2 separate regions of the Homo sapiens genome follow, and region 1 is linked to region 2. Evidence: fine-mapped expression QTL. A gene starts in region 2. The other region holds a variant in brackets. All regions are shown on one strand. Distances are from middle to middle.

Region 1 (2,788 bases), 90 kb after region 2:
CACAGTTAAGTCACAAAAGGTGAAGCATAAAGACAGAAAGGCAAATATTAGGACAAAACACATAATCATCCAAAATTTGGATGGTGCCAGGGAAAGGAATGAGAAATGGAACAATATGTATTTTGTCATTGCTTATAGTAAGGAATTAACAGTCTTTCAAAAGAAATACAGGATTAAGGACATTGTATAATGTCAATCATACAGAACAAATATGAAAACCTTTTAAGTCATAAGAATTAAGATAGCCACAAAGCAAAGAAAATACAGATCTTATAGAAAACCATACAAAGTAAGAATAAAAACTGAGATGAAGGTGGTGTAAAATATTACATACTTCTAAGATCAAACATTATTTTCACATTAATAAATGTATTAATGGACAAATTTGCCTATTCAAAATCCCAAAAAAAGATTTTTTTTTTTGGAAATTGTAAAGCTAAATTTAATTGTAGGCTTTATACAACAGATACTTAAAACAAAAAAACAAAATAAGAAAAGTTGTAAATTAAATTATGGGAAAATGCATGTGAGAAAAATGCAAGCAAACAATTAGGAAAGCAGGGGTTACAACCTTAGTATTAGAAAAAGTAAATAGGAACTGCGCACGGTGGCTCACGCCTATAATCCCAGCACTTTGGGAGGCCGAGGCGGGTGGATCACGAGGTCAGGAGTTTGAGACCATCCTGGCTAACACAATGAAACCCCGTCTCTATTAAAATACAAAAATTAGCCAGGCATGGTGGCAGGCACCTGTAGTCCCAGCTACTCGGGTGGCTGAGGCAGGAGAATGGTGTGAACCCGGGAGGCAAGCTTACAGTGAGCCGAGATCACACCACTGCACTCCAGCTTGGGCGACAGAGTGAGACTCCGTCTCAAAAAAAAAGAAAAAGAAAAATAAGTAGGGGGAAAAAAAGGCATTTGATGATACAATTATAGTCAACTTAGATTGGTAAAGAATGAAATTTACGATAGTGTTTAATAATTAGGAATAGCCATATACCAAATAATGTAGTATTAATAATCATAAAGTAAATAGCACAGGAAACACAAAGAAAAAAGAATCATACTATGAGAAAAAGACTTAGCCTGTTCTCAGACTGTTACGCAGTCCCCGGTATTGCCATAAATACCGGGGACTGCGTAATTTATAAAGAAAAGAGGTTTCATTGGCTCATTCCATAGGCTATATAGGAAACATAGTGGCTTCTGCTCCTGGAGAGGCCTTAGGGAGCTTTTACTCATGACAGAAGGCAAAGTAGGAGCAGGCACACCTCACATGATGGGAGCAGCAGGAAGAGAGAGAGGAGGGAGGTACTACCTACTTTTAAACAACCAGATCTTGTGAGAACTCAATAATTCACTATCACAAGAACAACACCAAGGGATGATGCTAAACCATTCACGAAGAATCCACTCCATGAATCCAATCACCTCCTACTAGGCCCCTCCTCCAACACTGAGGATTACAATTCGACATGATATTT[G/C]GGCAGGGACACAGATCCAAACCACATCATTCTGCCCCTGGCCCCTCCCACATTTCATGTCCTTCCCTGATTGCAAAATACAATCATGCCTTCCCAACAGTTTCCCAAAGTCTAACTCATTCCAGCACAATAACAACACCGAGAGATGATGCTAAACCATTCACGAAGAATCCACTCCATGAATCCAATCACCTCCTACTAGGCCCCTCCTCCAACACTGAGGATTACAATTCGACATGATATTTGGGCAGGGACACAGATCCAAACCACATCATTCTGCCCCTGGCCCCTCTCAAATTTCACCTCCTTCCCTGATTGCAAAATACAATCATGCCTTCCCAACAGTCCCCCAAAGTCTTAACTCGTTCCAGCACAGACTCACAAGTCCACAGTTTAAAGTCTCATCTGAGACAAGGCTAGTCCCTTCTGCCTATGAGCCTGTAAAATAAAAAATAAGTTACTCCCAAGATGCAATGGAGGCATAAGCATTGGGTAAATACTTCTGTTTCAAAAGGGAGAAATTGACCAAAATACAGGTGCTACAGGCCCCATGCAAGTGCTAAACCCAGCAGGGCAGTCATTAAATCTTAAAGCTCCAAAATAATCTCCTTTAGCTTCATGTCCCACATCCAGGGCACTCTGATGCAAGGGTAGGCTCCCAAGGCCTTGGGCAGCTCTGCCACCATGGCTTTGCAGGGTTCAGCCCCCACAGGTGCTCTCAAGGGCTGGCATTGTGTGTCTGCAACTTTTTCAGGCACAGGGTGCAAGCTGCCAGTTATTCTACCATTCTGGGGTCTGGAGACGGTGGCCCTCTTCTCACAGTTCCACTAAGCACTTTCCTTGTAGACGTTCTCCATGAGGGCTCCACCCCTGCAGCAGACTTCTGCCTGGACATCCAGGCATTTCCATACATCCTCTGAAATCTAGATGAAGGCTCCCAAGCCTCAACTTTTGCACTCTATGCACCCACAGGCTTAATACCACATGGAAGCCACCAAGGTTTATGGATTGCACCCTGTGAAGCAGTGGCCCAAACTGTATCTGGGCCCCTTTGGGCCATGGCTGAAGTGACTAGGATGCAGAGAGCAGTGTCCTGAGGCTGCACAGGGAGGCAGGGCCTGGGCCTGGTCCACAAAATGTCAAATGCCTTTGAGACCTTTTCCCCATTTTTTGGCTATTAGCACTTAGCTTCTTCTTTTTACTTATGCAAATTTCTGCAGCCTATTTGAATTCCTCAACTGAAAATGGGCTTTTCTTTTCTATCACATAGCCAGGCTGCACATTTTCCAAACTTTTAAGCTCTG
Region 2 (2,788 bases):
GCGCATTCCTGGGTGTAGGCGTCACGGGCGCCGCGGCTGCCTGCGCTCAGTTTCTTTCCCTCAACAGCGGCAATTGCACGTAACCGCGTCGCCTCTGGGATTTTCTCCCGCCTCCCATCACCCCCGCGGCGCTCCCCGCCTCCCCGCCAACCAGCAGGTTAGATCTAGGAGGGGCGCCCGCCTTGAGCCGGGTGGTTCCGCCGAGGCGCACGCAGCGCCCATGCAACACCCCACAGTATCGGGCCACCTCGGCCGACCCAAGGCGACTTGACCACGACTCCGCGGGCGGACTGCGCCTGGCCACTAGTGGCTCCAACCGCGGGGTCACCCTGCGGGCACACAGCGCTCTCCTCTCCCCACTGCTATCTCCTCGTCCACGCTGTCGTCTGCCGCCCCCACCCAGAAGGGATACAATTTTCGCCCAACAGGGACCGTGGGAATCCCTTGGGAGGGGCGCAGACGGCTTGTAGCGCGCGGTTTCCCGAGACCCGCCGCGCATCCCCCAGCGACTGGAAACCCGCCCCAAGCGCCACGCGGTCCTCCCACTCTTACCCGAAGTGTCCCACAGGCTCAACTCTATTCTTTGTGTGTCGATTTCAAAACTGGCCGTGTAATTCTCAAACACTGTAGGAACGTAATTCTGGATAGACAAAATGGGCAAAAGAGGAAGGAAAGAGGGCAAAGAGGTTACGTTTAAACGCACGACACCCATTGAACACCCTTCCCCTCCCCGCTCCCCAGTTAAGAAAGAAAACCTTCACACATCAGACCACACACTAAGCACATGGACCCTTTCCGAAACCCCTGTCCTACTCCCCACTCACCCCACCCGGCTCTCACAGATCTGCTGACCCGAATCTCCCAACCCCAGGTTATGCACACAGGAACGAACAAGTTTCAGGAGCTAACCAGCCCATGTGCAGGCGCGTCCCAACCCTAAAAGCTTCCAGCGCACTTTCCCTTTCCCCGCAGTCTAATCAGGGGAAAGTAGTAAGGACCGAGAAAGACTTTTTTTTTTCTTTTTTTTTTTTTTTAAGGGAAAACGGATGAAAGCGGGGAGGCCCACCTCGGGACTGGGATCCCACTGGCCGACCCCCTCGTGGAAGCCGCGGCCGGCCACACTCACCTCGGGGAAGCAGTCCTTGGCGAAGACATGGAGCAGCGCAGTTTTTCCACACTGACTGTCTCCCACCACAACTATCTTGCATTTCACGTTCTGATTAGGATCCATGATAGATTTGCTGGATAATTTCTGGCTGGCTCTTCTCTCCTTCATTGATGTTGCCTTATTTTCTCTTGGAACAGGAATTTTCTCTTAAGAAGAAAAAAAAAAATATATATATATATATATATTTCTCTCTTTATAAAAAGCAGATATAAAAATAAATCACAAGGCTGATGGGCAACCTCTGAAACGCGGCGCAGACGAGGAGGAGAGCGAGAGGAGCAGGCTGGTTACTCCCCTCCAACAAGTTTTAAGCCTGACTCCTCACCGCGCCTCCCAAGTCCAATTCCGAGCCGACTGCTTTGTTTCACGCTCTCTGCGCGGCTTTATACGCCCGGCCTTCCAATCCTCTTCTTTCTCAATGAGAGGAGGAAACTGATCTGCCTCCTCCCCTTTTATGGAGCCTGGGAGCGAGCGCTGTTGGCGTTGCATGCCGAAAATGTAAGCAGTGCGCCCTCTAGGGTGCCCATTCGGGATCTATTTTAGACCAAGGCTCTTAGACAACATGAAGATCCCAAAGATGCTTTGCTGACAAGTCCACAGGGCAAGGTGGGAAACTGGTATCTGTGCATACTGATTTGAACTACAATCCCTTTAAATATAGTTTAATAGGGGCTTATCTGTAGAAGCCTCATGAGCATTTATGAAAACAAAAACATTTCCCACCCAAGTTAAAGGACAGTGATAAAACATAGGAAGCAAATCTTGGGTGGAGAATAGTTGAGTGGTTCTATTTTTTTTTTTAATGGTTTGTATCAGGTACATAGGCCATGGACCAATAGATCAGCCTCTTTATTCCAGATGCAAGAACAGGCTTGCCTGGGTCACGGTAGTAGACTGGCTTCTGAAACCTGTCAGTTTCAGTCGTACAAGTGGAGGCAGAAAGGTTTCGAGGGGTGGGTACAGGAGGTGGGAGGGGAGAAGAAAGAGAAGTGGAAGATGCCCATGACTGAGTGACAAAGGCCATTGGAAACTCAACCCTACTGCGCTAGGGACCCAAACACTTGTCAGCTTAGTTGCACCTCCCCACATTTGCAGTGAGGGGACTGGTGGGGGGGCAGATTTTGATACTATTAATTCTTTATCTATAGCCTCCATCTTCCCGGAATCAAAGCACCCTAGACTGGACTCAGAAGGCACAAACATCTTTAGCTGAAAAATGCAGATACAACCCTCCACCCTCTCTTCTGTCCTCCTCCACATCCATCTCCCTAGCCCTCCAACTCTTCCCCGCAAGCAAAAATCTTAGAAAGGACCAGAATAGCCCGCACATTTGTTCTTTTTCTATGAGAAGTCTTTCTTTTTCTCATCTTCAGCTCCTGCACCCTAAATGCTCAGGAGGTTTCAATTGTTACAATGTAGTAGCACACTGGCCAAAACCAGCTTATATGGTCCCCTGTGGAGACTCCTAGGCTTGTAAATGAGAAGATAAGGTGAAAACAAACAAATCAGAAAGTTTAACATGGGAAGTGAAAAGGCACAATGAAGAGTTGTCAAAAGCACTGATGTAAGTAGTGGACTGGTAGGGCCCCTGAAGCCTAGGGGATCCAGGAATGATGTCCT

Direction of the effects. Positions count from the first base shown, and alleles are read on the strand shown. Sizes are in standard deviations (SD) of each study's normalised expression.
With allele C in place of G in region 1, the expression in skeletal muscle of the gene that starts at base 1,526 in region 2 is higher (small effect, 0.19 SD a copy in GTEx).

Evidence for each region. PIP is the estimated chance that this variant, and not a neighbour inherited with it, causes the effect. A credible set is the group of variants that fine-mapping cannot tell apart.
Region 1: its variant is the best candidate, but not a certain one, in a credible set for the expression of RND3 in skeletal muscle (GTEx, PIP 0.70).

The regions. Positions count from the first base shown.
Region 1 is chr2:150,576,335-150,579,122 of GRCh38, forward strand. No RefSeq gene overlaps it. Among named protein-coding and RNA genes, the nearest start is that of LINC01920, 5.5 kb to the left of the region's middle. The variant G/C (reference allele first, on the strand shown) is at 1,485.
Region 2 is chr2:150,486,142-150,488,929 of GRCh38, forward strand. RND3 (Rho family GTPase 3) reads right to left here and starts at 1,526. Exons shown (of 6, transcript NM_005168.5): 1 at 1,408-1,526; 2 at 1,127-1,314; 3 at 553-640. The coding sequence starts at 1,276.